Regions from separate parts of the Homo sapiens genome. Here region 2 is linked to region 1. A link means that fine-mapping ties the variant in region 1 to the expression of a gene that starts in the linked region. Tissue or cell type: whole blood. Region 1 holds a variant in brackets; the other region holds the start of a gene. All regions are shown on one strand. Distances are from middle to middle.

Evidence for each region.
Region 2: FDX1 starts here. The variant in region 1 is fine-mapped to the expression of FDX1 in whole blood (INTERVAL, PIP 0.92).

Annotation. Positions count from the first base shown.
Region 1 is chr11:110,354,312-110,359,694 of GRCh38, forward strand. LINC02732 (long intergenic non-protein coding RNA 2732) reads left to right here and starts at 803. Exons shown (of 4, transcript NR_135100.2): 1 at 803-1,207. The variant T/C (reference allele first, on the strand shown) is at 2,449.
Region 2 is chr11:110,427,782-110,433,164 of GRCh38, forward strand. It overlaps FDX1 (ferredoxin 1), which reads left to right and starts at 2,167. Exons shown (of 4, transcript NM_004109.5): 1 at 2,167-2,524. The coding sequence starts at 2,340. RefSeq lists a silencer at 1,981-2,630 and an enhancer at 2,701-2,980.

The DNA.
Region 1 (5,383 bases):
AATTAATCATTACGGGCTGGGCACAGTGGCTCACCCCTGTAATCCTAGCACTTTGGGAGGCTGAGGTGGGGGAATTGCTTGGGCCCAGGAGTTTGAGACCAGCCTGGGCAACATGGCAAAACCCCATCTCTGCAAAAAATACAAAAATTAGCCAGGTGCAGTGGCTCATGCCTGTAGTCCCAGCTACTCTGGAGGCTGAAGTGATAGGATCCATTGAGCCAGGGACATCGAGGCTGCAGTGAGCCGTGATTACACCACTGCACTCCAAATTGGGTGACAGAATCAGACTGGGTGACCGAATCAGTCTTTCATGGTCCAAACCCAACTCATTCTCTCTCTCTCTTTCTCTGTTGCTCTCTCTTTCCCTGACACAGATATTCACTTAGCATTTAAACGTGACTTCTGAGACTAAAGTGAAAGAGATTTGTCAGTTATCAATATGTTCTGATATTTTTCTGATATAGATAGTTTGATAAATAGATAAATGTATAAATATTGTTCAAGTGCTTTTGGAGCTAGTGAGTTGGCTGCATTGTTATGTCTGTTTCGGGAACTCTAGAATGATATGTAAAACCCTCTTCCCTCCCTTCTTTACTTTCTTCCTTCCTTCCTTCCTTCCTTCCTTCCTTCCTTCCTTCCTTCCTTCCTTCCTTTTATCCACATTTTTTTCAGCAAACATTTAAGAGTGCTAACGATGTGTCAGCTTATGCTTGGCTCCAAGAGATTCAAAAATAAAAATGTCAAGGTCTCCTAATCTCTAGGATAGGGAGAGTCAAATTTGCATGAGGACTTTTGAGAAAAATCAAGGATGCCTGAGGGGATTTGAGTCCTACAGGCTCAGCACTTATGAAAAAGGATAAAGTCCTTCCCAGCCTGGCAGGAGAAGGAAAAGCCTGTGGTGGGGGAAGGGAGTGAAGGCGTGTGCCTCCTCATGGAACACAGGGTCGGAGTCGGCTAGGAGGGATAAGAGTACAATAGAGGGTTGTGTGACACAGACAGGCTGCCAGCCCTCAGCATGGACCCGGCACATGGAATCTGTGATCTTAAAAGAGTCAAGTGACTACCTTTGGCAACCAAAAGAGACACTGCCTTTTAGAAGGCATATCATCTGAAACTGGCTGAAAGAGCTGTCTTACTTAGGAAGAAAAATCTCTCCTTTGGAAAGAGCTGGAACTTTTAGTAAAACTGAACAGTGAGGTGGCGGAAGGTGAGTTAATGTAGTGCTGGGTAGGGAGGTCGTGTGGGCAGGTGTAAAGAGCAGAGCCAGAAGACGTGGGTTTCAATTTTGCCTCCACATACTAGCTGAGCAGTCTTGAGCAAATAATTGCTATAATTGTTTCTGGGCTGTAAAATACCAAGTGAGAACAATGACTGGTCTCATTTATAGAATTATATGAATTACTTTTTAATTCTCATAACCAACTTATGAAATAATTCTCATTACTATTCCCTTTATTTATTTATTTAGAGACAGAGTCTCACTCTGTCACCCAGGCTAGAGTGCACACCTCACTGCAACCTCAACCTCCTGGGCTCAAGAGATCCTCCTGCCTGAGCGTCTCCCCCTCCCTACTCCCCAGTAGCTGGGATGTTAGGTGTGTGCCACCCACTCTTGGCTAATTTTAAATTTTTTTTAGAGTTGGGGGTCTCACTATGTTGCCCAGGCTGGTCTCGAACTCCTGGGCTCAAATGGTCCTCTGGCCTCAGCCTGCCAAAGTCCTGGGATTATAGGCATGAGCCACCACGCCCAGCCTACTATTCCCTTTATATATTGAGGACACTGAGGCTTCAGGAGGTTGAATATATTTTCAAAATTTACATAGCTAGTAAATGGCAGAGCTAGAATTGAACCCATGTTTGTTTGATTTTAAACACTGTGTTCTTTGCCATTTACATTCTTCTGCCCCGCTTCTAAGGATCTGTATTAGGGACTAAATTAAACCAAGTTATACTAAAATGTTGGTAATTAATTTGACTATTAAATGCCTAATTGTTCTAGTACTTAATCTTAGTTTCAGCCAGGCACAGTGGCTCACGCCTGTAATCCCAGCACTTTGGGAGGCCGAGGTGGGTAGATCACTTGAGGTCAGGAGTTCGAGACCAGCCTGGCTAACATGATGAAAACCCTGTCTCTACTAAAAATACAAAAGTTAGCCAGGCGTGGTGGTGGGTGCCTGTAGTCCCAGCTACTCGGGAGGCTGAGGCAGGAGAATCGCTTGAACCCAGGAGGCGGAGGTTGCAGTGAGCCGAGATCACACCACTGCACTCCAGCCTGGGCAACAGAGCGAGACTCCATCCCCCACAAAAAAAAAAAAAATCTTAGTTTCATTTAAAGAATAGATATGAGTGTGTATATTATTTTTTCAAGTGTTATTACTTTTTAATTTAAAAAGTTTTTCCTTTATTTTTACATTTTTGTTGTGTAATTCCTTTTTGAGGAAAGAAAAA[T/C]CTTTTGAAAGTTATAAAAATGGTTAGAATGATTAGTGTAATCTTGTCAGGGCAGTATACACCTCAATTAACTAAGCTTATCCACAAATGGCCATTATTTTCTTGCTTCAGCAGTGACGTAGGAAAGGTCTGTATGCCTGGGAATGTGGAGATCTAGGTTTTAATCTAAGATCTGAGTTCATTGTCCTGTATTTATCTAAGGCCAGTCACCCTCTTTCGGCTGCTATTGCTTCATGTTTAAAACAAGGGGATTAGATGAAATGATTGGCAAAGTCCCTTGCAGCATTAATAGCCTATGAGTCTATAAAATTTTAGAAACAGACATAATTCAGAAGGATATAATTTTAAATCAATTTGTGTCACAACAGTAATAATAAACATAGTGGCTCTAAGCAAGTAACAGACTGAGAGAAAGAAACTATGAATTAGATAAGTTTGACTAGATAAGGTCTAAGTTCTTTCCAACTTTGAAATCCATGATCACATATTACAACACTGTAATTTTATAGTAGTTTGTAGGGTTTCAAAGAACTTTCATTCGATTTATCCTCTCTGATCCTCACAGGGACAATATGAAGCGGTGAGAAGAGTTGTTTTATCCACACTCTACAAATGAAGGAACTAAAGATTAAGTGGGTGGCATTGGGTCACTTGGCTAGTTGGGGACACAGCTGGGACAGCAAGGCTTTCTGACTCACACCCTGCCCTCTATGCCATAGCATTCCTGGGCTCAATAAACAGTAACTGTGAAAGAAGGTCGCCTCACACAAAACTACATTTTATTCTAGTTTGACAGATGAGTAATCCTCAGTGATAAATTCCTTTTCTGAAAAGTCTCAAAGTCCCTTGGGCAGTTTTGAGTCATTTGTAATGTCAAAAAGTTTAGGACAGACAGTATTTGCAACTTTCCTCAAATCCAAAAATCAGAAAAGCTGGGGAGAGGTTTTTACTTTTTCTTTCTTTCTCTTTTTTCTTTTTTTTTTGTAGACTAAGTCACAAGAAGGAAGGGTTTTACTTTTTCTTTTCAACTTAAAAAAGAGAGTAATTAATATCCTAAATTCTCTTTGTCCTAAGACACCTTTCCTAAGAACCATGAGCTTTTAGCTAAGTATGGAGGACGTTTAGTAGCCATGACTAAGCAACTCATCTTTCAGTTACAGAATAGCCTATGTTGGCCGGGCGCAGTGGCTCACCCTCCGTAATCTCAGCACTTTGGGAGGCCGAGGTGGGTGAATCACCTGAGGTCAGGAGTTCGAGACTAGCCTGGCCAACATGGTGAAACCCCGTCTCTACTAAAAATACAAAAATTAGCTGGGCATGGTGGTGGGCTCCTGTAGTCCCAGCTACATGGGAGGCTGAGTCAGGAGAATCACTTGAACCCAAGAGTTGGAGGTCGCAGTGAGCCGAGATGGTGCCATTGCACTCCAGCCTGGGTGATGAGCAAAACTCCCTCTCAATAAATAAATAAATAAATATTATTGTTATATTTGTGGAAAAGATAATTTGGCATCTTTTCACTCAATGAAAATATTTATTTAAATACTGTATACAAATCTATATATACTTACATATAATATAAATTTATACGTAAATATATATTATTGTTGTTATTTTATGTTATTTTATAGAAGTTATACATGCACATAATAAGAAAAAATCTTATCAGTAGAAAAAGAAGGGTGTAAAATGAATATGACCTCCATCCATTCCAGCCTAGGCCCATGCTCTAGAAACAAGCACTGTCATCGGCTATTGTTAGATGGTGTGGCGGTTGCCATTATAATTTAAAATTCCATGCTTACAGCTCTGTTTTTCCCTTTGTCAACTTTAGAAAGTACCTACTGACTTCAAAAAAGATGGGAAATTTCTTGTGTTTACACTTCCTCCCAATCTTTCTGTTCTTCTCCATCTCCAATTTGTGTTAGTTGTATTATAAAATTTTTAATTTTTTTTCTTTTTTTTTTTTTTGAGACAGAGTCTCTCTCTGTCACCCAGGCTGGAGTGCAATGGCATGATTTCAGCTCACTGCAAACTCCTCCTCTCTCCCCTGGGTTCAAGTAATTCTCCTGCCTCAGCCTCCTGAGTAGCTGGGATTACAGGAGCGTGCCACTATGCCCGGCTAATTTTTGTATTTTTAGTAGAGACGGAGTTTCACCATGTTGGTCAGGCTGGTCTCGAACCCCTGACCTCGTGATCCGCCCACCTGGGCCTCCCAAAGTGCTGGGATTACAGGCGTGAGCCACCACGCCCAGCCCTAATTTTTCTAAAAATTATATTTAAAATTATTATTTATAACTTTAAATAATGTACCTAAACTTCCATTTCTAAATTTATTTATTTAGACAGAGTCTTTTGATTCCCATTTATATAAGAGAGTCCACCTCTCAATTGTGTGTGTGTGTGTGTGTGTATATTCATGGTTTACTATGTTTACATTCTGCTCTGTAATTATAATTAAGTCTTCTGAGGATTAAAAATGAGAATCCTGAGTGGAAGTGATCCTTCACTCAGCACAGCGGTAGGCACATAGGTTTTCTATAATTGACTCGTATGGATAAACCCCATGTGGAAGAAAAAATAATCTTTTTTTTTTTTTTTGAGACCGAGACTCTCTCTGTAGCCCAGGCTGGAGTGCAGTGGCACGATCTCGGCTCACTGCAAGCTCCGTCTCCCGGGTTCATGCCATTCTCCTGCCTCAGCCTCCCGGGTAGCTGAGACTACAGGCGCCCACCACCATGCCCAGCTAATTTTTTTTGTATTTTTAGTAGAGACGGGGTTTTACTGTGTTAGCCAGGATGGTCTCGATCTCCTGACCTCGTGATCCACCCGCCTTGGCCTCCCAAAGTGCTGTAACTGCAGGCGTGAGCCATCATGCCCAGCCAAAAGTAATCTTATTTAATGGAAATTTTCCAGCTCAGATGAGATTCTTCTAAGC
Region 2 (5,383 bases), 73 kb after region 1:
TGGGCCTCTCTATCAGACATTAAACCAGTTGGCACCTGGGCGACCCAGTATCCAGAACTGTGAGAAAATAAATTCCTGTTCTTTACACATTACCCAGTCTGTGTGTTATTCTGTTATAGCATCATAAACAGAATAAGACAAAAGTCTTCAAACAATGAATGGATTTTGAAAGGAGTAAAAGATGGGCTGGGCATGGTGGCTCATGCCTGTAGTCCCGGCACTTTGGAAGGCTGAGGTGGGCAGATTGCTTGAGCTCAGGAGTTCCAGACTAGCCTGGGCAACATGGCAAAACCCCATCTCTAAGGAAAAAAAGAAAAAAAAAGGGATGGAGGGGTGGGAGTTTTATAGACAAAGAAATACATAAGCAAACAGATAAGCAAAAGCACGTCCTCAGTAATTCCATGTTGCTTTATCTGTATTCATGATCATGTTTACAAATCCATTCTGGAATTCTGCTGACTACTGATATTTGCAATTTTTGGCATTACTTCTCATCCACCTTAGAAAACCTGGAGAACATTTTTTCTATCTTTAATCTTCATATACATGCTTAATGAATTCTGATGATTATTAATGGAAATTTCATAACATCAATTTATTCACCAATATTTATTAGACCCTTGATATGTTCAAGACCCTGTAGCTGGTGCTGTCGGAGTCACTAAGATGAACTATATAAATAACTACTCTATGTGTACGAATAACTACCCTACAAAGCAGAAAGCTATCAAGTGCCTTAAGGGAGTTGAAACTGTATTTGCTACAGGAGGGCTGAGAGAAGACAGAACATCTACGATTTTTTTTCTTTTCAATTCTCTTCCTACAACTAATTCATCCGACCTTGGAAGTTTGGTCTTACTAAAAACAAAAGTTAGCTGTTCTTTTACAACCTCCTCTTCAAGATTACTTGTCAGGGTTTGCTGTGCCCTTCGCAGCTTGAAAGACTTTCTCTTCATCCAACGATTTGAGGCAATTAGGAGCCACTGCCTTCTCTCTGCCATTGGGTTCCAGAAAGCACCATACATTGTCCGCAGATACTTTACTCATGCTTACACTTTCTTGTTCTGAATCTTCAAAAATTAGTGGCGTGTGGTGGCACACGCCTGTAGTCCTAGCTACTCGGGAGGCTGAGGCAGGAGAATCACTTGAACCTGGGAGGCGGAGGTTGCAGTGAGCCGAGATTTCGCCACTGCACTACAGCCTGGGCAGAATAGAGAGACCCCATGTCAAAAAAAGAAAAAAAAAGTATCTGATTGTGTTTAGCATATCTGCAATATCCCCTTGACTTTGGCCTTTAGCCTCTTTATGAGTACCCTGATGGAGGAAGGCCCAGGAAGCGGTAGCCTTCCTGGTTTGTGACGCACGGTGTGCATTGCGTATTAGATTAACATCAGAATGGCCCTGAAGGCTGGAACATCTTATCTGTGTTTGAGAGTTATGGAAACTCTGATCCTCCATGAGAATAATTTTTCCAAGGTCTCAGATCTCTAAAGCAGTAGATCTTGGATCTGAACATTGCTATTTCTGACCTTAAAGCCCATGCATTTCCCACAACATATGAACCATGATAAGGTGTATTTTAAAGTTCATCTTTTCTGTTTTTTGTGAAAGTCTTTTAGAGATCTCAGCTCATCACAAAGTTTCCGGTTCAGTCTCGTGGGTTTCATGTACTCAGCCAGCATTTACTTGCCAGTCAAGGTCTAGGATGGCTACCTGTCCTCTGCAGGAGCCCCAAGCCTATTCATTAATTTCATTTACAATTTTATAGTCATAATTATTTCTTTGTATAATAGCATTCTGAGATTTTCCAAAATTTCCCACTGTTTTTGTTTTACAGTGGGCAGAATTCACTTTGCTCTAACTTGACTCCAAGATGACACAATTTCCCAGTTTTTTTTTTAACGGCTAGGGGATGGGGGTATGCGGAACAGAACACAGTGGTCTAGCTAACCGATTTCCGCTAGACGTCCAGCTATCTTTCAAAATATTTTGTTTCTGCACGGCAACTTCAGCCGCTAAAAAAGCATCCAGCTTACAACGGAACCTGGAGGGTTGGTAAAGGCCCCCTGCGCTGGCCCCGCCCCATGGGACCGGGCGGCGTGGGCGTGAGAGGCGGGGCGGGGCCGCGCTCTGCTTGCCAATGTCTTTATAGGTCACCCGGAAGGCACGCGGAACCTCGGCGCGGTGCTTCCAGCAGGGTCTCTCCGCCACTCCAGCCCCGCGCCCCTCGCCGCGGCCCTCGGGCGTCTGCGCCGCAGCTGCCGCCCCCGCCTCTTTGGAGTCTCTCGCGGCCTCAAAGCGCGGCCTGCGTCGCTTCCGGCAGTTCCCGACCGCGGGCGATGGCTGCCGCTGGGGGCGCCCGGCTGCTGCGCGCCGCTTCTGCTGTCCTCGGCGGCCCGGCCGGCCGGTGGCTGCACCACGCTGGGTCCCGCGCTGGATCCAGCGGCCTGCTGAGGAACCGGGGGCCGGGCGGGAGCGCGGAGGCGAGCCGGTCGCTGAGCGTGTCGGCGCGGGCCCGGAGCAGGTAGGGCGCCGTGCGGGCGCGATCGCCGGCGCGGGCCGGGGTCCCCGGTGGGTGGCGCCTGGCTCTCTGGGCCGAGTCTCTGGTTCCAGTGCCTTCTGCGCGCCGGGCCCACACCCCGGAGGCCTGCCTCTCGCCCCCCTCTTCTGGGGTGCTCTCGCGGCTCCGTCTCGCTGCTCGGTGGCGTCGCTGCCTCCCTTCCGTCGCACCGCAGAGTTCCTTTCCGCATCACCCACTCCCGGCGGGAATCGGGGACCCTGGACGCCCAGCTCCCTTTCCCAGCGCTTCCCGTGCCCTGAGGAAAGCCGGGACTTTGCTGCTGCTTGTTCTCCGTGTGATTTGTCTGGGATCTGACCTTTGCTCTGCCCGAAACTGGCAGTGACCTTCGCGACAGGCTTCCCTCCTGCTGTCCTGGCCTGACACACCTGCCAGCTGTTTTTTTCAGGGCCTTGCCCTGCTTTGAGAGGACACCCAGGTCCCAGGTCTTTGTCAGGGGGTGTCCAGGTAGAATACACCCAGCCCATACCCTCTGCTGCCCTGTAGGCCCTTTGCTAGTTGCTCAAGTGTTGAAAGCCCCTGCGTTGAAGTAATCTGCCGGGACTTGAAACTTGGCTTTGGCACTGATTGTCTGACGTGCCTAACTTGGTCAGTCCTTAGGAACCCAGTTTCTCCATTTGCAAGTTGGATATAATAACAGTGTAGACCTCCTATGGTTAATTGAAGAATCAATGAGTTAATACAGCGATACAGGTAGTCTTGTGCCTAGCACGTAATGAGGGCTCAGTAGATGCCACTTGGTAGCAGCAGCAGCAGCAGCAGCAGCAGCAGCAGCAGCTTCTTAGGTTCACAATGTTAAGAGAGTTTTGTATTAAATATTGAAAGAAATGTGACAATTTATCCCAAATGTGTTGAAGTTTTAGGTTCTTGGGCATATTTGTTTTTCAAAGACACTCCTTAGATATACTAGAGATACAATTTACACATAATTTTTACCAACATGGTGGCGATTTATATAATGCAGATCTCTCGACAGCTCTTTGACCGCATGATGTAGGGTAGCAGGAATCGAGAACTAGAGGGAGAGTGTGTTGGATTTGTACGCTGCTTTGTCTAGTTTCTTTTTGAGGTCTCTGAGAGCAGGGTCTAAGACTTTCAGTCATCTTTTCCCCACTAATCCCGTTATCTAGTGGGTGCTCCATACATTTTTGTTGTGTGAACTTTGGGGGAAATCAGGGAGAAGGCAAGCCAGATTTATTTGTTCCTGTTTCCTCTGCACTTCCCCCCCTGTCTTTGACCAGTGTGGGTACCTTGCTTTCTGTTATACAATGGATGAGTTTTGGACAACTGAATCAATTGGGACAGATATTGAACATGCTTGTGTAACTGGTATAAGGGAACATGAATGTTTTTGTAGTAATTGGGAGTTATCTTTCTCAGATTTGTTTTTTGGATTTGGATATGTCAGGTTGTTTTAAAGGGGAGCACGTCTATTTCCTCATAATCCTGCTGCCCTCTTTATTGGCACAATTTCTATTCATGGTCTTATCATTCCTCTTACAGACTTTGGAGCTACAACTGGATTTTCCAGTTCTTACTGTGTTAATGAGACTTGTGCTGTAACTACCGTAACTACTAATCACATGTGGCTATTGAAGTTTAACATAATTAAAGGTAAATAAAATTAAAGATTCAATCTCGTAGTTACACTAGCCACATTTCGAGTTCTCAGTAGCCACATGTGGCTAGTGGCTACTGTATTGGACATTGCAAGTATGTGTAGAACATCTTTGTTATGGCACAAAGTTCTTATAGACAGACAGAGCAGTTCTAGAAACTGTAGTTCTGTCTTTGAAGTTTAACAACTCGATAAGCTATCAGTAATTGAGAGTCAGAAAAACTCCTTTTACTCTAAAATACCGTGACACAAGGGGGTTTGCAGTGATTCAGGTAGCAAAGATCTTTCACGTGTATTGTTTCGTATGACTCTTAAGACAATTCTATGAGGTAGGGAGGGTAGATAAATGGGAATAAAAATTTCATATTAAGTAGCTGGCAAAACTAGGACTAGAACTCAAGAAGTTTTTGCGGATTTTAAAAAAATTTTAAATTTCTATTTATTTTTAAAATTTCAGTAGTTTTGGGGGCACAGGTGGTGTTTGGTTAATGGGTTAGTTCTTTAGTGGTGATTTTGGAGGTGTTGGTGTACTCTTCACCTGAGTGCAGTGGTGCCATCATGGCTCACTGCAGCCTACACCTCCCAGGTTCAAGCGATTCTCGTGCCTCAGCCACCCGAATATCTGGGATTACAGGCGCGTGCCACCACACTCGGCTAAGTTTTGTAGTTTTAGTAGAGATGAGATTTCACTATGTTGACCAGCCTGGTCTGGAACCCCTGGCCTCAAGTAATCTGCCTGCTTCAGCCTCCCAAAGTATTGGGATTACAGGCGTGAGTGACCACTCCCAGCATAGGGTCTACATCTTCTGACTCTTAGGTTCCATACTCTTTCAACTTAAGAATTACATTTTTCTTTCGTTTCCGCCTCCTCTCCTCTTCTTTGGTAAACCTGTTAATACTCTTACTTGGCAGTTTTTTGTAGGGCTGTTTACCTTTAATACAGACCAACAGGTTGGGCTTCTTAGCAAAAGGGCTTGGTCTTTAAATAACAGTTATTAATCAGTGTGTGTTGAATTCTACTATGTGTTACGTATTTTGCATACATTGTCAGAACTATAAGATTAATGTTGTCCAATTTTATAGAAGAGGAGGCTGATGTAAGAGATTTCGAATTCCTTTGCTGTAAGCTTAGCTCTAGAGTGCTTCAGAAGAACAGCAACGCTGAAACCTCTGGCTTTCAGTAGTGT